Regions from separate parts of the Homo sapiens genome. Here region 1 is linked to region 2. Evidence: fine-mapped expression QTL. A gene starts in region 2. The other region holds a variant in brackets. All regions are shown on one strand. Distances are between the middles of the regions. Region 1 overlaps ZNF555 (zinc finger protein 555). Region 2 holds the start of ZNF554 (zinc finger protein 554).

Region 1 (4,389 bases), 31 kb after region 2:
CTTTCTCAGCAGGTTTGAGGGAACCGTGCATCTCGGGGGTTCCATGCACCTGTGCCCAATATGCAATATGGAAATAATGAGAAATTGAGAGTGCAGCCTCTAGAGTGGTATGTGGGGAATCACTTCCTCCTGGAATTTGAGACACAGAATTTTCTAGGAAGGCACTATTTTGTCTATGTCTTTTATAACCATTGAAAATTCGTAGTCAAATGGTTTGGACTTCAGTTAACTCCTTTGCAAAGTGGGACTCTTAACTTTATCCTTAAGGTTAGCAATAATACTTTTTTTTTTTTTTTTTCTGAGACTGAGTCCTGCCCTATCACCCAGGCTGGAGTGCAGTGGCATGATCTTGATGCATTGCAACCTCTGCCTCCCGGGTTCAAGCAATTTTCGTGCCTCAGCCTCCCAAGTAGCTGGGACTACAGGCGTGCACCACCATGCCCGGCTAATTTTTTTTTTTTTTTCAGTAGAGATGAGGTTTCACCATGTTGGCCAGGCTGGTTTTGAACTCCTGACCTCAAATGATCTGCCTGCCGCGGCCTCCCAAAGTGCTGGGGTTACAGGCATGAGCCACCACACTTGGCCCAAGAATACTTTCTTTCGGCTCTGGTGAAAAGAGCTGTTTTGGCATTGTGTGCACCTCGCTCTGTGTATACTTAGTGAGTGTGCCTGTGTGTACGAGAGAGAGCCAGCGTGTGAGAGAGAGAGAACCCAGAATTAATTGTTGGGCTTCCGTCACTGAGGCTCGAAGTATAGGGAATGTGTGGAGGTCTACGTTCTCGTGTCTTTTTCCTCTTTCCTAAGGTCTAATTTCTCAATAACTTCTAGTTTCCAAGTTAAAATCAATACTTCTCAAAAGAATGTTTTCATTCAGCCAGTTGGACCAGGAGTTCTTTAAGACGCTATGGCTACCTGGCCCTTATGAAGGAAATAGAAGGGAATGTTCCCAATCCTTCAGTGTTTTTATCCCATAAAACTTCAGTTTTGACCCTGTGCTTTGTGTAGTGCCGAATGATGGTGTGTGCAGCAGGGGAGGAGCTAAAACGGTTTGTGTGACAAGGCACTGATGGTCTTAAAATACAAGTATTTGTTTCACTTATATAGCATTTGTTTGATATCTCCAATGTGGTCTGAATCCTTTTGATAGAGAATAATGTCTTCAGTTGGTCCCAGTAAAAGTATAGAGAGAAATTCAGTGTGTTAATGGTCCTGTGAAATCTATGAGGAAGTGAGTGTAGACAGGAAGGAAGAGGTGTGACAACTGAGTCACAGGGTAGATGTCAGGGAATCACAGAATCTTGTTTGAACTACATACGAATTGAGTACAATGCTCCTGGGCTCTCGGTCTCAACCATCCTCCCATAAATATGTTGAATTGTTTTAGGACTCAGTGGTCTTTGAGGATGTGGCTGTGGACTTCACCCTGGAGGAGTGGGCTTTGCTGGATTCTGCTCAGAGGGACCTCTACAGAGATGTGATGCTGGAGACCTTTCAGAACCTGGCCTCAGTAGGTAAGGATGACATCATTCCTTCCTTCACGTAGTTATTGAGAGAACAAGTATTTCTTACACATCAGACCTGTTCCAAGGCTTGGAATGTGGAAAGGGAATAAATTGGTAAATAAGACAGACATAGTCACAGCTGTCATAGAGCTAGAATGTAATGTTTTTCCATGAGAATGAGAATCTGTATTTCAGCTTTTTATTTTTGTAGAGAAAGCTCCCTTCATGTCGTCATTGTGGATATAGCTTTGATAGGCCTAGTGAAATTTGTTTGTGCAAGCCAGTGAAAATTTGATTTTTTTTTTTTTTTTTGAGATGGAGTCTCACTCTGTCGCCCAGGCTGGAGTGCAGTGGTGTGATCTCGACTCACTGCAACCTCTGCCTCCCGAGTTCAAGCAATTATCTGCCTCAGGCGCCCAAGTAGCTGGGATTACAGGCGAGCGCCACCATCCCTGGCCAATTTTTGTATTTTTAGTAGAGACGGGGTTTCACCATGTCAGCCAGGCTGCTCTTGAACTCCTGACGTTGTGATCCACCCGCCTCAGCCTCCCAAAGTGCTGGGATTACAGGCATGAGCCACCGCGCCTGGCCGTGAATTTTTTTTTTTAATAATTTTTCTATGCTTACT[A/G]ATACTGTGTTGATTGAGTTGCTTACCTTTTTGACCATTTTGTGTTTAATGAAGTCCTGAGATAGCTAAACTCCTCAGTGTCGTTTTCCGCTAACAAGTGCCTTCTTATATGATTTGTTTACTTTTTGGTTTCAGATGATGAAACTCAATTTAAGGCCAGTGGGTCAGTTTCTCAGCAGGATATTTATGGAGAGAAAATACCCAAGGAATCTAAAATAGCCACGTTCACCAGAAATGTTTCCTGGGCCTCTGTTTTAGGAAAAATTTGGGACAGTCTTAGCATCGAAGATCAAACCACAAACCAGGGGAGAAATCTCAGGTGAGTTGCACTCACAAGAGAACATAGTATTTCAGGAGAGAATCTTAGTCTGTCATTAAACTTTAAAAAAGCAAGCAAACAGAAAACTCATCCAAGCCTAGCTCCAATTTGTTTAATCCACAGAATTTTTACAAAAAAATATTTCTTTAAATGTGACATAGACAGTGAGTGACATTAGAAACATAATTCAGATGGAAACCATTATCAAGAAACCCTAGGCCAGGTACGGTGGCTCACACCTGTAATCCTGGCACTTTGGAAGGCTGAAGTGGGCAGATCACTTGAGGACAGGAGTTCGAGACCAGCCTGGCCAACATGGTGAAACCCTGTCTCTACTAAAAATACAAACATTAGCAGGGCATGGTGCCGCAGGCCTGTAATCCCAGCTACTCGGGAGGCTGAGGCAGAATTGCATGAACCCAGGAGGCAGAGGTTGCAGTGAGCTAAGACTGCACCACTGCACTCCAGCCTGGGTAACAGAGTAAGACTCTGTCTCAAAAAAAAAAAAAGAAAGAAAGAGAAAGAAACCCTATACATAAGAAACACTGTTTTAATAATGGCAGTGGTCAAACCATCTTCCAGGGCATTCAGTTTATTTCATTTTCAGACAGTTCCCATGGGGTGAAAAACCTATGCTTTCACTGAAAATGGTTAAGATGCAGTCCTAATCCTAATAAATACTAACAAATCATTATTAATCAAACCAATAACATGCTTCTCATTTTTAGTAGAAATCATGGGTTGGAGAGACTCTGTGAAAGTAATGATCAATGTGGAGAAGCCCTCAGCCAGATTCCACATCTTAATCTGTACAAGAAAATTCCACCTGGAGTAAAACAGTATGAATACAACACGTACGGAAAAGTCTTCATGCATCGCCGCACATCCCTCAAGAGTCCCATCACAGTTCACACTGGACACAAACCATATCAGTGCCAGGAATGTGGGCAGGCCTACAGTTGTCGTTCACACCTAAGAATGCATGTGAGAACCCACAATGGAGAGAGACCCTATGTGTGTAAATTATGTGGGAAAACCTTTCCTCGTACTTCCTCCCTCAATCGGCATGTAAGGATTCACACTGCTGAGAAAACCTACGAATGTAAGCAATGTGGGAAAGCCTTTATTGACTTCTCAAGTCTTACTAGTCATCTCAGAAGTCACACCGGAGAGAAGCCATATAAGTGTAAGGAATGTGGGAAAGCTTTCAGTTATTCCTCAACGTTTCGAAGACACACAATAACACACACTGGCGAGAAGCCATATAAATGTAAGGAATGTGCGGAAGCCTTTAGTTATTCCTCAACTTTTCGAAGACATATGATTTCACACACTGGAGAGAAGCCACATAAATGTAAAGAATGTGGGGAGGCCTTCAGTTATTCTTCGGCTTTTCGAAGACACATGATAACACACACTGGAGAGAAACCCTACGAATGCAAACAATGTGGGAAAACCTTCATTTATCTCCAGTCCTTTCGAAGACATGAAAGGATTCACACTGGAGAGAAACCCTACGAATGCAAACAGTGTGGGAAGACCTTCATTTATCCCCAGTCCTTTCGAAGACATGAAAGGACTCATGGTGGAGAGAAACCCTATGAATGCAACCAGTGCGGGAAAGCATTCAGTCACCCCTCCTCCTTTCGAGGACACATGAGGGTGCACACTGGAGAGAAACCCTATGAGTGCAAGCAATGTGGGAAAACTTTCAATTGGCCCATATCTTTACGAAAACATATGAGAACACATACTAGAGAGAAACCCTATGAATGTAAGCAGTGTGGGAAAGCCTTCAGCTTGTCTGCTTGCTTTCGAGAACATGTGAGAATGCACCCTGAAGACAAATCCTATGAATGCAAGCTATGTGGGAAAGCTTTCTATTGCCACATATCCTTACAAAAACATATGAGAAGACATACCGCAGAGAAACTCTATAA
Region 2 (4,389 bases):
AGGGTGACTAAGAACAGAGCAGGTGACCAAGGATAACTAAGGTCAGAGCAGGTGACCAAGGATAACTAAGGTCAGAGCAGGTGACCAAGGATGACTAAGGTCAGAGCAGGTGACAAGGGTGACTAAGAACAGAGCAGGTGACCAAGGATAACTAAGGTCAGAGCAGGTGACCAAGGATAACTAAGGTCAGAGCAGGTGACCAAGGATGACTAAGGTCAGAGCAGGTGACAAGGGTGACTAAGGTCAGAGCAGGTGACCAAGGATGACTAAGGTCAGAGCAGGTGACAAGGGTGACTAAGAACAGAGCAGGTGACCAAGGATAACTAAGGTCAGAGCAGGTGACAAGGGTGACTAAGGTCAGAGCAGGTGACCAAGGATAACTAAGGTCAGAGCAGGTGACCAAGGATGACTAAGGTCAGAGCAGGTGACAAGGGTGACTAAGAACAGAGCAGGTGACCAAGGATAACTAAGGTCAGAGCAGGTGACAAGGGTGACTAAGAACAGAGCAGGTGACCAAGGATGACTAAGGTCAGAGCAGGTGACCAAGGATAACTAAGGTCAGAGCAGGTGACAAGGGTGACTAAGAACAGAGCAGGTGACCAAGGATAACTAAGGTCAGAGCAGGTGACAAGGGTGACTAAGAACAGAGCAGGTGACCAAGGATAACTAAGGTCAGAGCAGGTGACAAGGATGACTAAGGTCAGAGCAGGTGACCAAGGATGACTAAGGTCAGAGCAGGTGACCAAGGATGACTAAGGTCAGAGCAGGTGACAAGGATGACTAAGGTCAGAGCAGGTGACCAAGGATGACTAAGGTCAGAGCAGGTGACCAAGGGTGACTAAGGTCAGAGCAGGTGATAGGGGCTAGGAGGGGTTGTTTACTGAAACTAGGGGCAAGGAAACGAAAAGAACGAGGAAGTTAAAGTTTAAAATGAAGAACAAAGAATAGGTGGCCGGGCGCGGTGGCTCACGCCTGTAATCCCAGCACTTTGGGAGGCTGAGGCAGGCGGATCACGAGGTCAGGAGATCGAGACCATCCTGGCTAACACGGTGAAACTCCGTCTCTACTAAAAATACAAAAAAATTAGCCGGGCGTGGTGGCGGGCGCCTGTGGTCCCAGCTGCTTGGGAGGCTGAGGCAGGAGAATGGCGTGAACCTGGGAGGCGGAGCTTGCAGTGAGCCGAGATCGCGCCGCTGCACTCCAGCCTGGGCGACAGAGCGAGACTCCATCTCAAAAAAAAAAAAAAAAAGAACAGGGGAGCTGAATATACGGAAACATTGGTTCTTTGGAGAGGAGCTCATAACTGATTGTACTTAACAATTTACAGGCTAAAACCTTTGAAGAGGAATTTGTTGTATCCTACAACAGTATATTAATTATAGTAGTTTTACTATTTTAATTTCTCATAAATAACAATCAGTAGAATATTAAATAAATATTTAAACAATAATTTAATTTGGCTGGGCGTGGTGGCTCACGCCTGTAATCCCAGCACTTTGGGAGGCCAAGGCGGGCAGATCACTGGAAGTCAGGAGTTCGAGACCAGCCTGGCCAACATGGTGAAACCGCGTCGCTACCAAAAATATAAAAAATTAGCCGAGTGTGGTTGTGCACGCCCGTAATCCCAGCTACTTGGGAGACTGAGGCAGGATAATCGCTTGAACCCGAGGGGGCGGAGGTTTCAGTGACCTGAGATCATGCCATTGCACTCCAGCCTGGGCGACAAGAGCGAAACTCAGTCTCAAAAACAAACAACAATTACTTAAGCAATCATTTTAATAAGTATGTAATACATTATACGTTTATATAACTTGCTTAATAAATAATAGTAGTTATTAATATCCAATGGCAAGCCGCCGGGAAACGACGGAGCTGGGATTTGAGGATTGGCTCCGCGAACCCCACAACACCCGGGGACTCCAGCGAACCACACGGGGTGGATCCAACAGCCGCAGGGGCATCGTGGTCCTGCGGAGACGCCGCCCGCCCGGAGGCGGCGCTGTGACCCAGGTTGGAGAGTCAGGAGCCCAGCGCCGCGCTGCGGGGCCTGCTGGGACTTGTAGTTCGCAGGTTCGGGGTGCGCAGGCGCAGTGCCGAGTTTACCTCTGCGCGCGTCGGGGTTGGTGGCGGCGGCTGCGGCGAGTTCCTGAGGGGCGCCTGCGGGGGGCGTCCGCTCCGAGCGCCGAGGAGCCGAGCGGAGGAGGCGTCCCAGGGACACGCAGGGGAGGCCGGCCGGCCTGCACGGGGCGCTCCCGCCTCGGGGGCCCTGTCTGGCGCCTCAGCGCGCGCCCCGATGGTCACCTGCGCCCACCTGGGCCGGCGCGCGCGGCTCCCGGCAGCTCAGCCGTAAGTGCCGCCGCCTCCCGCGCCGCGACCTCCGTGCCGGGCCTGCCGGGGCTCTGGTGGGGCTGGGTCTGGCGGGGCCGGGTGGCCGGGGCATGACCCTGTCGCGATAGGGTCCCCACGGGAGGGTCGGGAGCCGGCAGCTCGCCCAGGGCCCCAACGCCCAGGATGGCACGGTCTGCCCTTGCCCTGTGAAAACGCCCCTGGGTGAGAGACGCATAAGCTTTCCGAGGCCCAGCCTGCAAGGAGAGGGAGAAGACGCATTGACTCTACCCTAAAGGCAGAGAGGGGCTGCCACGCTCGCACTGCAGTGAGGCCACATCAGAGGGTCTGAGCGAGGGGCGGTCCTGCCCTCCAGGGGACACCGGGCGATGTCTGGGGACGTCTGTGGTTGTCATAACTGGGGGCAGTTCCTGGCATGGAGTAGGTGGAGGCCAGGGATGCAACTCAGCACCCTGCCCAGCCCAGAGAATGACCCAGGCTCCAGTGTCCACAGCGCCCTGAGGGAGAGACCTCACTTATACGTTAGCACCGCTGTCCTGGTGATAAGACAGCAAGGGTCCTTTTTTTTTTTTTTTTGAGACGGAGTCTGGAGTGCAATGGCATGATCTCGGCTCACTGCAACCTCCGCCTCCCGGGTTCAAGCCATTGTCCTGCCTCAGCCTCCCAAGTAGCTGGGATTACAGGCGTATGCCACCACGCCCGGCTAATTTTTGCATTTTTAGTAGAGACGGGGTTTCACCATGTTGGCCAGGCTGGTCTCGAACTCCCACCTCAGGTGATCCACCCGCCTCAGCCTCCCAAAGTGCTGGGATTACAGGCGTGAGCCACCGCGCAGCTGCAAGGGTCTATTCTGTTTATACCCACCACCCATGTTGAGGAATGAGGGAGGCAGCTGACCTTTCTGCTGCTCTAGCAACCCCAACCTCCCTGAACTCTCCCCTACCCAAACAGGTTGGTTTCTTTTTCTTCTTCTTTTTTTTTTCTTGAGACAGTCTCGCCCTATTGCCCAGGCTGGAGTGCAGTTGCACGATCTCGGCTCACTGCATCCACCTCGTGGGTTCAAGTGATTCTCCTGCCTCAGCCTCCCAAGTAGCTGGGATTACAGGTGCACGCCACCCCGCCTGGCTAATTTTTATATTTTTAGTAGATACAGAGTTTCTCCATGTTGGCCAGCCAGGCTGGTATCGAACTCCTGACCTCAGGTGATCCACCTACCTCGGCCTCCCAAAGTGACCACTGCGCCCGGCGCCTTTGGTTCTTACATGAGCCTCCTGGAGCTGCTGTGACAATGCACCACAAACCAGGGGGCAGGGGGAGGCTTGAAATTTATTCTCTCACAAGTCTGGAGGCCAGAAGCCCAACATGAAGATGTGGTGGGGCCGTGGTGCTTCTGAAGGCTCTGGCGGGAGGATCTTCTCTGTCTCTTCCAGCTTCTGGGGGTGGCCTGCCATAGTTGGTGTCCCTTGGCTTGGGGCCACATCACTCCAAGCTCTGCCTGCATCATCATGTGGCCTTCTTCCCTGTGTCTCTTTCTCCTTTTTTGTTTTTATTTTTATTTTTTGAGATGGGGTCTCGGTCTGTCACCTGGCTGGAGTGCAGTGGCACGATCTCGGCTCACTGCAATCTCTACCCCACAGGATCAAGCAATTCTGCCTCAGCCTCTCGAGTAGCTGGGATTACAGGTGCACGCCACCACACCCAGCTAATTTTTGTATTTTTAGTAGAGACGGGGGTTTTGCCATGTTGGCCAGGCTGGTCTCGAACTCCTGACCTCGTGGTCTGCCCGCCTTGGCCTTTCAAAATGCTGGGATTACAGACGTGAGTCACCTAGTCCAGCTGTCTCTTTCTCTTATAAGGACAATACTCATGACCCCAGTAGCTGGAAGAGGCGGAAGGATTTTTCCTGAGAGCTTTTGTTTCTTCTTTTCCTTATCTTTTCTTTTTGAGATAGAGTCTTGCTCCATTGCCCAGGCTGGAGTGCAGTGGCACAGTCTTGGCTCACTGTAACCCCTGTCTCCCAGGTTCAAATAATTATCGTGCCTC

What was found. PIP is the estimated chance that this variant, and not a neighbour inherited with it, causes the effect. A credible set is the group of variants that fine-mapping cannot tell apart.
Region 1: its variant is the best candidate, but not a certain one, in a credible set for the expression of ZNF554 in whole blood (INTERVAL, PIP 0.62).

The regions. Positions count from the first base shown.
Region 1 is chr19:2,849,203-2,853,591 of GRCh38, forward strand. It overlaps ZNF555 (zinc finger protein 555), which reads left to right. Exons shown (of 4, transcript NM_152791.5): 2 at 1,385-1,511; 3 at 2,266-2,449; 4 at 3,178-4,389. Among named protein-coding and RNA genes, the nearest start is that of ZNF555, 9.9 kb to the left of the region's middle. The variant A/G (reference allele first, on the strand shown) is at 2,131.
Region 2 is chr19:2,817,779-2,822,167 of GRCh38, forward strand. It overlaps ZNF554 (zinc finger protein 554), which reads left to right and starts at 2,090. Exons shown (of 5, transcript NM_001102651.2): 1 at 2,090-2,346. The coding sequence starts at 2,294. RefSeq lists a silencer at 2,129-2,568 and an enhancer at 2,501-3,194.